2 linked regions of the Homo sapiens genome follow. The protein of the gene in region 2 interacts with the protein of the main gene of each other region in a pairwise test. Each region holds a gene or a part of one and is shown on either strand. Other genes may lie near its edges.

The links. Proteins that work in one complex are often made in the same cells at the same time.
Region 1: the proteins of CCDC146 (region 2) and PPP2R3C interact in binary tests that used the Homo sapiens proteins (3 or more experiments, as listed by UniProt).

Annotation. Positions count from the first base shown.
Region 1 is NC_000014.9:35,111,451-35,119,247, forward strand, and holds part of PPP2R3C (serine/threonine-protein phosphatase 2A regulatory subunit B'' subunit gamma), read right to left. Parts: intron 5,288-7,797; coding exon 5,160-5,287; intron 1,681-5,159; exon of another isoform or gene 625-1,680; coding exon of another isoform or gene 595-624; intron 1-594. UniProt on the Homo sapiens protein: May regulate MCM3AP phosphorylation through phosphatase recruitment. May act as a negative regulator of ABCB1 expression and function through the dephosphorylation of ABCB1 by TFPI2/PPP2R3C complex.
Region 2 is NC_000007.14:77,271,975-77,279,771, reverse strand, and holds part of CCDC146 (coiled-coil domain-containing protein 146), read right to left. Parts: intron 6,079-7,797; coding exon 5,983-6,078; intron 5,550-5,982; exon of another isoform or gene 5,405-5,549; intron 5,291-5,404; coding exon 5,120-5,290; intron 2,259-5,119; exon of another isoform or gene 2,197-2,258; intron 1,629-2,196; exon of another isoform or gene 1,420-1,628; intron 1,021-1,419; coding exon 932-1,020; intron 836-931; coding exon 671-835; intron 1-670. UniProt on the Homo sapiens protein: Essential for sperm flagellum biogenesis and male fertility.

The DNA of each region.
Region 1 (7,797 bases), on a different chromosome or scaffold from region 2:
AATTTAGTTTATGATTTAAATGATAATAGCTCATCCCAAAACTAAACTGCCTTTGTAAAACTAATGAAAGGACACCAGGTCAGGAGGATGCGAAGGACCAGAATTCTGCTAAGATGCAGGTCAGTTAAATGATTAGCAGTTATTATTCCAGAGGGCACAAAAATTTGCAACATCCTCAATTACTCCTGTAAATAACATCACTATTGTAGTACACAGGACTGGCCTTTTGAGATGTCTTTTCAGGCTTTTGCACTTCTGACTACCCAATGGCCCCTCTCAGACCAGCCACTCCTCTGTGGCCCCAACCCAGAAGCAGACTCAGCACGCAAGGACCAGGACTGTTTTTCTATATCCCTGTGATTCCATCCCCAACCAATCAGCAGTACCCATTCCCTAGCCCCTGCCTACCAAACTATCCTTGAAAAACCCTAGCCTCCAACTTTTCAAGAAGGCTGATTTGAGTAATAATAAAACTCCTGTCTCCCATTTAGCTGTCTCCATGTATATGAAATTATTTCTCTCTTGCAATTCCCATCTTGATAAATTGGCTCTATCTGGGTAGCAGGCAAGAAGAACCTGTTGGGTGGTTCTTACCTGTAATTCTTCCTGTCCAGCAAAAACCATTTATTCTTCTTGTCCAGTTTTAGGAAAGCATGCCTGTTGAGATTGGATCACCTTTCTTCTTGGAGACAGTCAAGGCAGTGCCTATTATGTTGGCCTCCCAGGCAAGAGGGTTTGCCAACTGGGGTGATTTCCATGAGCAGAGCTTTAGAATGATTCATTCCAACCTGACTTAGAACAATTTGCTTTATTTCTTCTTTTTTAAATTAATAATAGAGGCAGGGTCTTGCTATGTTGCCCAGGTTGGTCTTGAAGTCCTGGACTCAAGCAGTCCTCCCACCTTGGCCTCCCAAAGTGCTAGGATTACAGGCATGAGCCACCACACCCAGCCAGAATAATTTACTTTAAAGAGTTCTTCTTCCTTTTCTACATCTTAGCCCCATTAAATTACCTCGGTAAACCTTACGTCAAAACTTGGGGTTATGGTTTTCATCTTTCATTTCCAGGAACTAAGATGCCATCCCTCCCATCAGAAGGAACAGAGTTAAAGGAGTATAAACCAAAAATAAAATTCTAAGGCCCCCCAACCATCTGAATGGACTTCCTCCTCAGTCAGCGCCCTTAAAATTTAACCTGAGAGACTGTTTCAGGGCATGATGGGAAGTGGGGGTCAAACATGCCTCGTTATACCTCTCTGGCATTAACATCAACACAGACTTTAAGTCTAATAAGAAACATTTTGCAACCTATTCTCTCTGAAGCCTGCTAGCTAAAAGCTTCATCTGCATGATAAAACCTTGGTCGCTACAGCCTCTTATCTTAACCCAGACATTCCTTTCTGTTTGATCCCAGGTCTTTAGACAAACTCAGCCAAGTGTCAACCAGAAAACATTTGAATTTACCTGTAGCCTGGAAGCCCCACTTCAAATTGTCCCACCTTTCTGGATCAAACCAATGTATTTCTCAAATGTATTTGATTGATGTCTCATGCCTCCCTAAAATGTATGAAACCAAGCTGCACCCAAACCACCTTTGGTACATGTTCTCAGGATCTCTTGAAGGCTGTGTCACAGGCCATGGCCACTCATATTTGGCTCAGAATAAATCTCTTCAAATATTTTACAGAGTTCAACTCTTCGTCAACAGAAGAAACATTAGGAGATGGGGATGGGGCTGGAGTTGGGGGTGACTGACATTGTGTTCTAGTGGCTAGTTAACCAGCTAATCAGCCAAGGAGAGAAGTGGTGACTCAAGATAATAGGTGTTTTCTCTGAAGCAGTGGGACCATGGAGAGGAAGAAGAAAGAAGGGAAAGGACTTTTTTACAAATCCATAGCTGCAGACAGGAGACCATCTAAGATCTAGAGGTGGCCAAAGAGAGAAGTGACACGAAGAAAGGAAAAAAAGGAGATTCCCTCAGGAACCAGAAAAAGAAGGCAAAGGTTTGGTCCCGGAAGTACAAGAAAGTTCAGTCCTGGGCTCAGGAACGGGGTCACACCATTCCTATCCAAGAGCTGTTAGGAATGAGACAGAGTAGGAATGGGGGCTTGGGTCAGCTCACTCCCACTATGGCACTCTTTTCATGCATTCCCACTGATCACAAAACCCACACCACTACCTCACTGACACCATAATGTCCAAACCATGCCTTTTACTCAAAAGAATTCCAGTAACTAGGAGATAACCAAAGTTGTGAAGTGAGTGTCCTATCTGGGGAAGGAATGCTGAACAACTGATTTACAGCCTTGTTGCCTCTAGCCAGACCAGGTGGCCCGCTGCTCAAGATAACCATAGCAACCAGACAATGCTGACCTGCATACCCTACCTGATCTGCTTTGCCCAGCCCAGCCTGCATACCCCACCCTAATATCAATTCCTGATTTTTTTTTAAAAAGCCCTACCAGCTCTTTTCAGAGTCAGGTGCTCTCTCTCCCTTTTGCATTGAGAACCCAAGAACCTATGTTCGATAACAGTAACATATTATTTAAGAATCCAGGTTAAATGAGATAAAGAATACAAAGGGCTCTGCAGTGCTTAGACACTCAATAAATGTCAATTCCCTTCTCTCTCCCCTCGGCTATCAAAAATATTCAGTTATTTAGCTGCCTCTGTTTAAGGAGAGTGTGAAATGCAAAAAGCAGTAAAGGTATGTATGATGTAATCCCATTTAAAAAAATACACAGATACCCACAGAAATATGTAGAAAGATTCATATAAAATGTTCTGTTTACATTGTTGGGTGATGTTGTCATGGGAAGAGATCAACTTGTTTAGCCATATTTTTTCCTTTTCTACAATAAATATAGGCTAGGATTACAGGCATATGATTCTTAAAAGGTTGAGAAGTATATAGTATTATAGGAAGGTTTCCAATAAAAAATGTTCGGTTGAAAAAAATTTGCACTTGAAGAAATATTTCAGTATCTGGATAACTCACTTATATAAATACCTTAATCTGTAAGAACACCAGCTAAATCATTGTTTACTATACTTGCAAATAACGTTGTAATTAATAGAGTTAGAAGGTAATAGGTTCAAGGAACATCCAGCTAAGATTCCAGTTAACTTGTATAATACTAAATAGGTATTTTTCAGTAGATTTCAGTTTCAGGTATAAATAGCTTTTTATTTTTATTTTTTTTAAATAGACAAAATAGACCTTAAGAAAAAAAAATAGACCTCTAAAAAAAAAGATGGGATGGGCCAGCATGGTGGCTCACGCCTGTAATCCCAGCACTTTGGGAGGCCGAGGCAGGTAGATCACCTGAGATCAGGAGTACGAGACCAGCCTGGCCAACATGGTGAAACCCGGTCTCTACTAAAAATACAAAAACTAGCTGGGCGTGGTGGCGCACACCTATAATCCCAGCTACTTAGGAGGGCTGAGGCAGGAGAATCACTTGAACCTGGGAGGCAGAGGTCGCAGTGAGCTGAGATCGTGCCATTGCACTCCGGCCTGGGCAACAGAGTGAGACTCCATCTCAAAAAAAAAACAAAAAGATGGGGTGTGGGGTGGTCTCACTATGTTGCCCAGGCTGGTCTCAAACTGCTGAGCTTAAGAGATTCTCCCTTCCTCACCCTCTCAGAGTAGCTGGGACTACAGGCGAATTGCCCTACCATTGCCAGGTTGTAAACGGCTTTTTTTTTTTTCTTTTTCTTTTTTTTTTTTTGAGATAGGCTCTTGCTCTGCCACCCAGGCTGGAATGCAGTGGCATGATCACAGCTCACTGCAGCCTCAAGCTCCTGAGCTCAAGCGATCCTTCCACCTCAGCCTCCTGAGTAGCGGGGACTACAGGTGCGCACCACCATGCCCGGCTAAGTTTTTTTTGGAGAGACACGATCTCACCAAGTTGCCCAGACTGGTTCTCAAACTCCTGGCCTCAAGTGATCCTCCTGATTTGATGGCCTCCCAAAGTGACAGGATTATAGGTGTGAGTCACCACACCTGGCCAACATTTTTTTTTTGAGACAGGGTCTTTGCTCTATCACCCAGGCTGGAGTGCAGTGACCCTACCATGAATAGCTTTTCTTAAGGTCTATTTTGTCTATACGTCCCTTCATAGCCATTTTCAGAGTTTTGGCACAAGGAAAAAATAATCAAGTGAAATTCCTTTTTTGTTTGTTTGTTTGAGACAGAGCCTTGCTCTGTCACCCAGGCTGGAGTGCAGTGGCGCGATCTGGGCTCACTACAACCTCCACCTCCTGGGTTCAAGTGATTCTCCTGCCTCAGCCTCCTGAGTAGCTAGGATTACCGGCGCGCGCCACCACGCCTGGCTAATTTTTGTATTTTGAGTAGAGACAGGGTTTCACCATGTTGGTCAGGCTGGTCTCGAACTCCTGACCTCATGATCCACCACCCACCTTGGCCTCCCAAAGTGTTGGGATTACAGGCATGAGCCACCATGCCTGGCCTCAAGTGAAATTCTTTAGGTTTTCCATAATCTATTTTTCGGTTTAGCCTTGAGCAAAATTTTAAAACTTTATAACAAAGTGTATACCTGATAACATAATCCAATAGAATACTTACTACTAATATCTATAATAAAAATCAGAAAGAAAAAGCCCACAGTTTAACAACTTTGTGTTTACATACCCACTTAAATCTAAACTTGGGATTTTATTGGGCTCAAAATGTTTTATAATAGTGATAAGATCAATTACAATAAAATAATATATAAAATTTAAAATATAATTCTCTATTTTTAAAACATAAAATTCTGGTCCTATTTTTAAAACTACTTTTTTTTCTGGGGGTGGGGAGGACAGGGTCTAACTCTGTTACCCAGGCTGGAGTGCAGTGACACAATCACGGCTCACTGCTGCCTCGATCTCCTGGGCTCAAGTAATCCTCCTGCTTCAGCCTCCTGAGAAGCTAGGACTACAGGCATGCATCACCATGTCCAGCTATTTTTTAAAAAATTTCTTTTAGAGATGGGATCTTGCTATGTTGCCCTGGCTGGTCTCAAATTCCTGGACTCAAGTGATCCTCCCGCCTCAGCCTCCCAAAGTGTTGGGATTACAGGTATGAGCCACCCTGCCTTGCCAAAAATTATATTTCATTTTTAAACTCTGCAGGACATTTGATTAGACACTACTTACCCTATAATAAAACCGGGGAATGGTCTTATAGAATTCATTTGTGTTTTTTCTACCTCCTTTCCATTCGGAGTAATATTTTGTAAATAAATCCATTTCTTCATCTTTTAATTCTTGTTCACTTTTTTTTTCTGGTAACAAAACAGATTAAGGGGAGCACTTTTAAAATCAAGCAGTACTTTTACTCAGGTCATCCTATATATTATATTAATAGTTTAATTAAAATAGTTGCAGTGCCAAAAAGGCCTTCACAATTGTGCTTAGACACTGAGCATATTAACTTTTCTGAAATACCAAGAATCACTACCCTCTACTGAAGCAGCCTCCTCTACATCTTCAACCATTTCTCATGCTCCCTCTACTTCTGTTTATCGCTAAAGCTAGTCTCTTCCTCAAATTACCTCTCCTACAGAACTCTGTAGAGTGCTCCTAATTCATTCAATGAAAAGAATTTACTGAGCACCTACTATGTACAGAGAACGCTGTAGTAGACACGGAATGAGGGGTGAGCAAGACAGCCCCAGCCCCTGACCTCATGGAGTTTCAGCCTCATAATCACTGTTTCTCTACCTAATGTAGAGAAAACAAACAAAAAAACTCATCCTCTGTCTGAAGCTCAAAACTCAGGGCTCTATTACCCTGCAACTCGCCTGCTATTGGCACGTGGCTGTCTCATTCAGCCAATTCCTCCCCACTTATTTGTGGACTATGGTGACTGGTACACAGTGTTCTTCACAAGGTCCTGCAATCATTTAGGATGAATAAACATTTATGTGGGTGACCATGGGTCCTGCAACTCCAAAGACTTTCACCTCTAGTTCATTCTGCCATTTGGTTCTATGACAAGATCACAGATTTTACTTGATCCCTTTCTGAAATCTTAAGCTCAAATATACTCTCAGATCATCCTTTCTGGTAATTCAAAACCTCACTGCCATACCATTTCCACTTCAGCCTCACTGAGCTCTTGAATTCTGTGATCTATTTTCTCAAAAGTTATTTTACTCTTTCTGGTCTCATTTCCTTCCCAACAAGCCTGTAATTGTTTCCTTGAATTCCTTTTATGACTGCATTTCTGCTGCATCTGTTAATTTTTTTTTTTTTGGAGATGGAGCTTCACTCTTGTTGCCCAGGCTGGGGCGCAATGGTACGATCTCGGGTCACGGCAACCTCCGCCTCCCAGGTTCAAGGGATTCTCCTGCCTCAGCCTCCTGAGTGGCTGGGATTACGGGCATGTGCCACCACGCCTGGCTAATTTTGTATTTTTAGTAGAGATGGGGCTTCTCCATGTTGGTCAGGCTGGTCTTGAACTCCTGACCTCAGGTGATCTGCCCACCTCGGCCTCCCAAAGTGCTGGGATTACAGGCATGAGCCACCATGCCTGGCCTATTATGTTAATTTTTAACCTTAGACCAAACCTATAAGTTAATTTCTTTACTATGGCTCAGTGCTGTTGTAGAAAACTGCAAAATTTTTCAAGCAAAGTCAAGACTGACAACTGACCACTGAAGTTAACAATATAGCAGTCACTGATGATTCTTGACAAGCAGGAATTCGAGACGAGTACAGATTTAACCAACAACTGTTTTAACAAATATTGCTATAAGGGGAACAGAAAAATGAGGAATGGCTAGAGGTGGAAATTAAGTCAAGAAAGTTTAAGATGGGAGAAATACCAGCATGTTTATATGCTGATGGGAATGATTAAAGAAAAACTGATGATACAGGAGAAGGGACAACTGCAAGAGTACATCCTTCAGCAGGCAAAAATGGAATCTACTACAAAGGATAGGATCTAGTACACTGATGAAGGAACCAGACTTACGCAGGTGCTGTACAACCTATATAATTTACTTATTATTTTATTATTTCTCTCCACACTAAAGTGTAAGTTCTACAAAGACAGAGATTTTTTTGTGTTCTGCTATAAGCTACAACGGTACTTGGCACAAAACAGGCATGCAATAAATATCTGCTAAAAGAATGCAGTGGGTTTAAGAGTTAAGGGGTCAAGAAAGCACACAAAGTACAAGTACAGGTACCTTCCTTTTTTTTTTTTTTTTTTCCGAGACTGAGTCTCACTGTCACCCAGGCTGGAGGGCAGTGGCGCGATCTTGGCTCACTGCAAACTTCACCTCCTGGGTTGAAGTGATTCTCCTGCCTCAGCCTCCTGAGTAGCTGGGATTACAGACACTTGCCACAATGCCCGGCTAAATTTTGTATTTTTAGTAGAGAGAGCGTTTCACCACGTTGGCCAGGCTGGTCTGTCTCCTGACCTCAGGTGATCCACCCACTTCAGCCTCCCAAAGTGCTGGGATTACAGGCATGAGCCACTGCGCCCAGCCAAGTACAGGTAACTTCTTTGAGAAGTTTTCCTATGAAGAGTGCAGAGAAATGCAACAGAAGCTGGAGAGGGATGTGGGATCAAATGACTTTTTTTTTTTTTTTTGAGATGTAGTCTCGTTCTATCGCCCAGGCTGGAGAGCAGTGTCGTAATCTCAGCTCACCGCAACTTCTGCCTCCTGGGTTCAAGCGATTCTCCCGCTTCAGCCTCCCAAGTAGCTGGGATTACAGGTGTGCACCACTGCGCCCAGCTACTTTTTGTATTTTTAGTAGAGACGGACTTTCACCATGTTGGCCA
Region 2 (7,797 bases):
GACGCTTTTCTGAGTGTTTTTATATGAATTAGCTCATTTCACAGTAAAATGTCGCATGAAATATGGTATGGATAAGGAAAGTGAGCTCAGAGAGACAAAGCAGCTTGTCCAAGGTTACAGAGGTAATAAGTGGGAGGGGTGGTATTTGAGTCTGGACACCACCTCTTTCACCAATCTGCTATAACGTATTGCCTCCCACAACACATGAGATGCTTTACATCTACAATCAGGGGATGTTGGTTAACAAACGATTTGATTGTTTTCTAACTTCCCAATCCCAATTATTAGATTTGTGCTTTTCTTTCTAATTGGGCAGGTGAAAATCATCATAGTAAGCATAGTTATATGTTATGGTTTTTCATTCATTAAAAAAATGACTCCCAAAGAGTAGAAGCATGGTAGATTATCATCTATAAAACAAGATGTTTGAACAAGGGCTTTTTCTGGATTTCTAATTCTGGCTTTCTAAAATACTATTCTTTTTATTTTTTATTTTTATTATTTTTTTGAGACAGGGTCTCATTCTGTCACCCAGGCTGGAGGGCAGTGGCACCATCTTGGCTCATTGCAGCCTCTGCCTCTTTCCTATCTTCTTATCCCCAGGATTTTTAGAGTTCAAATGAATCAGAAAACAAGCCTTTGAAAGGCCAATAGTTATTATAACACTTACCTTTCTTGACTAACGGCACTATTTCTCAGAATTTCAAGTTCATTTAATGACATTTTATGCCTTTCTTTTATTTCATTTACTTTCTGATGAGCTTTGTGGAGTAAGTTAACAAATTTGTTTCTTTCATTTCGAATGGTGTCATACAGTTTAGCAAACTCTCTCAGTCTGTAAAAATACAAAGTGTTTACTGAAACTTATGAAATGAACATCAGGTTTTTTTCCCCTCACCTACGTAGATAAAACACCACATAATTACTTTACCTCCGATAAATTTCACATTTTTTCTTCTTGTGTATCCTGATTTCAAGATCCTTTGCTTTCATTTCTTTAACAATGTTGGTGTATTTTTGCTGAAATGTACAAAAAAATGTGAAATAAATAACAACATATGAACACTCCCAGATTTATCCCACATCATTCCCTTCCATTAAAGACAATTCTCCAGCCTAGGCAACATAGTGAGACCTCATCTCTACAAAAATAAAAAAATTATCTGGGTATGGTGGTGTGCACCTGTAGTCCCAGCTACTCAGGAGGCTGAGGTGGGAGGATCGCTCGAGCCCAAGAATTCGAGGCTGCAGTGAGCCATGATTGCATCACTCCGCTCCAGCCTGGGCGACAAAGTAAGATCCTGTCTCTCCAAAAAAAAAAAAAAAAAAAAAAAAATTATTTCTTGGCTTGCTGGGTTGTACAGATCAGGGTGAAGGGTAAAAGAGATCTGAAAATTCCCTGGCTAGCTGAACTGATTCACATTGGCTAAGACAAACTGTTAACTGTTACCTAAAGAAGAGAACAAACGAGAGAAGAGAAAACGCAAAGAGCCTGCATGGCTTGGGTTTGAGGAAAAGTTTGGACAACTTTTGAGAGAGAGGAAGAGTGATTTTGAACCACACAGCTGGACTGGGTGAGTGTAGTTTATGGAAAATAGATGAGAGAAGAGGATTCCTAGTAAGTTTTGGTGAGTGTTATAAACTGAACCCTCTGTGGTGTTTTGTCAGAGACTGAAGCAATGATTTTAAAGTGCTTTCCATTCTTTTGTATGTGGGGTGTTTTCCTACATAATAAGGCATCATATTGAGATCAGCTGTAAGGAGGTGTTACACATAAATATTTTAAAAGAAAGCAGTTATATTTCTAGAGTTCTAAAAAATATATCAAGTGCTAAATACACTAGTTATGTTCTTCAAATCAAAAGATACTGGTTCTTGCATCTGGGATAAGAAACATATTCAAAAATGAAGGATTTGCTGGTAGTAAACCAGAGGAAAGAGTTTGTCAGCCTTCTCTCAAGGACTGAGAGCAAAGCCCTTTTGGTATGAGTGATTTGAAAGAAACTAGCCATAGAGCCAAGATTGATGTGTAGCATTTTTCTAATGCTGTTCTCCATGAGAATAGGGGTCAGGAAGAAACGAATATTTAAGTAACTGTACACATGAATAATAAAACAGATGGGAAAATGTAGTGTCATCTATTCTGTCTTAGGGGTGATAGTGACATTGTTTTTTTTTCTTCACCTTTGTCTTTAGGGATGTGGATGCAATGTGAACATAAAAGATTGCCTTCTTATGGAAACTGCAGCTAAGTACAGGTAATGTTTAACACACTAATTCCTAATGCTAAAAATACTCAAGGGATAAACATTTGTCCTTTATCAATTTCTGTATCTCAAGAAGAATTGTCTATTTTGGTTTAATACAAATTAGCTCATTTAATAATGAGGTTTGCTTTACATAGATTAGTCACACATAGATATACATGTATATCAGTTTTTGAAATTAATTGAAAATTATCTAATTCATAAAACGGATCAGTGTTTCTTATAACAAATAAGTATACCTCTGGTGTTTCTGTAATTTCTAAAGAGAAAAGGGAGGAAGTTTCTAACTAGGAAAGACTCACTTGAGTGGGATCTTCCCAGCCAACACCAAGTTGTCCCAGACCCTGACTTGGTGAAGATGGCTTTCTTCTTCCTTCTTTTCCTTCCTTCCCTCCCTCCCTTCCTTCCTTCTTATTCTTTATTTTTCGTTTTTGAGACAGAGTCTCGCTCTGTCACCCAGGCTGGAGTGCAGTGGCGCAATCTCAGCTCACTGCAACCTCCGCCTCCTGGGTTCAAGCGATTCTCATGCCTCTGCCTCCTGAGTAGCCGGGATTACAGGTGCCCACCACCACGCCAGGCTAATTTTTTGTACTTTTAGTAGAGATGGGCTTTCACCATGTTGGGCAGGCTGGTCTTGAACTCCTGACCTCAGGTGATCCACCCGCCTTGGCCTCCCAACGTGTTGGGATTACAGGCGTGAGAGACCGCTCCTGGCCCAAGATGATCTTCCCACATCTCTCCTCTCTCCTCTCCTTGTCCTGCTCCTGCATCTTACCCGCTTAGCCACCCTGTGCTTTGAAGCTGCCTTTCTTTCATCCAGTCCTCCCTGACCACTTCTTTACCTAGTGAAACCCAACTACTCCATGAACTTCACTCTTGCTGCAGCCTTCATTATGGAGTCTAAATTGTTTAACATGGATTAAGTGACTTTCATCATCTGACTTGTCCCGCTCTCTGGTCTCACTATTTGACATCCTTTCTCCCCATCTTCCCATGTGCCAGCCATCCTGAACTTCTTTTAGTTTCTTAAATATTAAAGTAGAAAAATAAACAGTGAAAGGGGGATGTGAAGTGCCTGCAGTGGGTTGTGCAATGTAGATCTTCTCTTTTTTGCAAAAATCTACTTCATACCTCATTGCTCACTAATGCTTTGGCGTGAGTGAGCTCTTTCTGCAGAATGAGAAGAAATACCATTCTATGTAAATCCTTACTTAGACTGAGAACAAGGGATGTGCTTAGAAACAGACCAAACAGACCACATCTGGGTCATGAGATAAATTCTTTTTTTTTTTTATTTTTGAGAGGAAGTCTCGCTCTGTCACCCAGGCTGGAATGCAGTGGTGCGATTTTGGCTCACTACAACCTCCACCTCCTAGGTTCAAACGATTCTCCTGCCTCAGTCTCCCAAGTAGCTGGGATTACAGGCACCTGCCACCATGCCTGGCTAATTTTTGTATTTCAGTAGAGATGGGGTTTCACCATGTTGGTCAGGCTGGTCTCAAACTCCTGACCTCAAGTTATCCACCCGCCTCAGCCTCCCAAAGTGCTGAGATTACAGGCATGAGTCACCATGCCTGGCCTGATAAATTCTTCTATTTTAGTAATATGTAATATCCTGTTTATTTTTAACAGGGAGCTTCTGGGCATGATCTGGACATAATCCTTATATGGAATAAACAATTCTAATGGTAGAATTTTAGCTTGCATGACAGGAGTGCTGCCTTACCATTTGTTTTATTGTTGATTTTAGGGGGGAATGTTGCACTGGCACTTTGTAGGAGGCCCAGGAAAATCATGGTGTGATGAAGCAACTAAGGGTATCTGGCATTCGATTAAATGATGCTGTCTTGATGAAGTTGGGAGGGACAGTTACCTAATGCTACCACTCTTGAGTTGTTCCTGGACAAATCACAGTGGAGTCTGAGATGGGAGTGAAAACTAAATGATATCTGCAGCCTATGCAGCTGCCAGCCCTGTCCACTGGAGGCACCCACTTTATTCTTACTGAAATTGCCATCTGTTCAAATCCTCCGATCATTATCAATGATCTCCTTTCCCATCTAAATTGTTGATTACTGTTAATTGAATCTTGGGACTATCTTTCAGTGCATGATTGAATCTCATTTAGGGAAGATTTATAGTCACTGGTACTTGAAGGAGAGGCACAGTTATAGTGGTTCCTTGGTATACATAGGGAACTGGTTCCAGGACCCTTTGAGAATACAAAAATCCAAGCATATTCAAGCAGTCCCAAAGTTGGCCCTGTGGAACTCACCTGTAAGAAAAGTGGGCCTTCCATATTTGCAGGTTTTGTATTCTGTGAGTACTCTACTTTTGATCTGCATTTGGTTGAAAAAAATCTGTGTATAAATGGACCCATGCAGTTCAAATCCATGTTGTTCAAGGGTCAATTGTATAGCTTTTCTTTTTTTTTTTGAGTTTCCTTCCAGTTCTTTTTTTAATATTTATATATTTTTATTATACTTTAAGTTCTAGGATACATGTGCACAATGTGCAAGTTAGTTACGTATGTATACATGTGCCATGTTGGTGTGCTGCACCCATTAACTCATCATTTACATTAGGTATATCTCCTAATGCTATCCCTCCCCGCTCCCCTCACCCCACAACAGGCCCCGGTGTGTGATGTTCCCCTTCCTGTGTCCAAGTGTTCTCATTGTTCAATTCCCATCTATGAGTGAGAACATGCAATGTTTGGTTTTTTGTCCTTGCGATAGTTTGCTGACAATGATGGTTTCTAGCTTCATCCATGTCCTAATGCACGTGGCATTATAATGAGGCTACCCTGAACTCTTGTAGTTATCAATGAATGGTTAAAAAAATGCAGTTACCTGAGCTTTCAGGAAATCCTTGGACTTTTGTTCCTTTTCATCAATTTTGATTTGAGTCATGCGGAGAAGGTTGACTACTAGCTCTTTCATGTTTTCTTGCTCCTTTAAAAGCTTGTTTTCTTCTGCAAGTTGTTGTTCTACTAACTTAGACTCCATTTCTGATATAATTTTCTTTTGAAAAAAAACACAGATAATATTATAAGTTATTTGTTTGAAGTAATACAGTAAAGCTAGTATCTTAGACTACCTTTTTACTTCCTATACAAAATGTATTTTTTTAAACAGGCCAGGTGTGGTGGCTCACGCCTGTAATTCAAGCCTTTGGGAGGCTGAGGCAGGATGATGACTTGAGGCCAGCAGTTCAAGACCAGCCTGAGCAACATAGCAAGATCCCTCTCTATAAAAAAAATAAAAATTAAAAATAAAGTAATGGTGTTTTAGCTTCATTGTTTTCATTTTGTAAAATAATGTGAAAATCGATGGGTTAACATGATAGAACCTCTTTGTATTTAGACTGTATTTTCAAGTGACTAAGAAAAAGAAGACACATAAAAACAAACGAAAATTTGAAATTAGACATTGGTGAAATAAAACATCTGTGGTTTACTTTTAATGTAATCAACAGCCCATAATTTAAAAATCTCATTCCTTTGAATACTTTTTGCGGTTCAAACATATTCTTTTTTCTCAAATTTAGTGTAGGATTGGAGTGGACTTTGAGATGAAGAAATATGCCCACATGAAGCAGGATCATACTCTCTTTGATGACTCTCTTATTGATAAGGTTTTGTGGAGCACAGTTAAAAGCACAACTTTGTATGAACGCTTCTTAGATAGAAGCTTAAATGAGCATTGATATTAACCTGTTGGGCCAAATTCCTCTTAGCTACTTCAACTTCCTTGTGAAGCTCTCGCCTTCTCTCAGATAATGTAGAATCATCTTTGGGGATAGCTTCCATCTGGAAATCAAAATTTAAAAACATGCATTTATGTAAGAAATAAATCTTTGGGAGGCTGAGGCAGAGAATTGCTTGAACCCGGGAGGCAGAAGTTGCAGTGAGCTGAGATCGTGCCACTGCACTCCAGCCTGGGTGACAGAGTGAGACTCTGTCTGAAAATAAATAAATAAATAAATAAATAAATAAAATTCACTGCTGTGTAGTCAACCTCATCACACACTTTTTGAAAATGCTGAGCAAATCACGAATCTCAATCTTATAAGAACTTCCCTTTATGCCAAATATTCTTTATAAGCCATGGCAAATTAAAATATGAAGACCTGCCAAAAATCTATAATTTGCCAGCTGCAAATGTTTATTATTTAGAAATAAATCTTACTAATAGCTAACATTTATTGAACATAAACCAAGTGTCCAGCAAGGTTCTAAATGCCTGTGTATACGATCTTATTTCATCATTACAATACCCCTCATGAGGTGGGGAATATTTTCTCCAATTGTACAGATGAAGAGAATGAGGCACAAACACATTTAAGCAACTTGCCTCAATGGTGCAGGTGTAAACCCAGGGAGGTAGACTTGGAACCCATGATCTGCCTAACTCATCTAACTCATGACCCAGCACTTTGGAGACATGAATATACTATGACTATTCAAATTATAGTTATTATAAAATGTGAGTACATTTATGAAATTGTATAGGATAAAGAAAAATATGTAATTTATTAATAATAGTGGGGATAGTTTGCTACTTATATATAGTCATTTGATTAGTAGCTGGAAATTTCTTACACAAAAGAAAAGCCTCAACTTTTTGGTTGATACCTAAAATTTCACCATTACATTTCTGTTGTAACGGCTTGCACTTTTCTCCTGTGTTGACGTACTTTAGGGAAAAGGCAAATCTCACTCTTTAAGTCTTTGTTGCCCTATTAGGAATGAGCTTGTCAGATTCTTTGTGATGAAGACGAGAGTAGAGAGGAGGACATGTGGCAGCTGATGGGGAAAGGGTACCATTCAAGGCTACAGGGAGGGTCATCTTGGGGTGCTTCCAGCCTACTTGACTTAGAGCAAGTTTAGAGTTGGCTATTTACACCAAAAGCTCATGACTCCAATCTGATGTGGTTCAGTTCCTACTGTGACAGCACACACTTGTAGGCCCTAAGGTTGAATAATGGCCAAAATTTAGACCCAAGAAAGGAATATCACACTGTCTAGTGATTTGAAGGTTACTTAACAGGATCTTTTTGAGGATCATGCTGCTATGTTAAAGTCACTAAAGTGTGTCTTTGGATGCCCCATCATCCATGAATCAGGGTATCTTCAGTAGCACCTTCTGTACCCTCAGGTGTCCATGTCCTGCTTTTCCATTGGGTCTCCTACCCTGGAGCACTAGCTCTTGAGATGCACACACTGGACTTAGGAAAACGAGATGTGGTCTTGTGAAACATGTCTGACAATATACAGAATGTTGTGGGCTTAACAAACATAAAATTGCTATAGCAGATCAGAAAAGGGAGAACTCAGTATAGAATTGAATAATTGGGAAAGCCTTCCTGGAAGATGTGAATATTCATCAAGGAAGTGTTGATTTCTCCTTTAGGAAAGTCAAGTTAAGACCTCCTGGATAGAGGAACTCCAGCAAACATCCTGGGTCCCTGTCTGATTCTCTGCTACAGGTGTGCCTGGAGTGGGCTGTCCTCATGCTCAGCTCCCGGG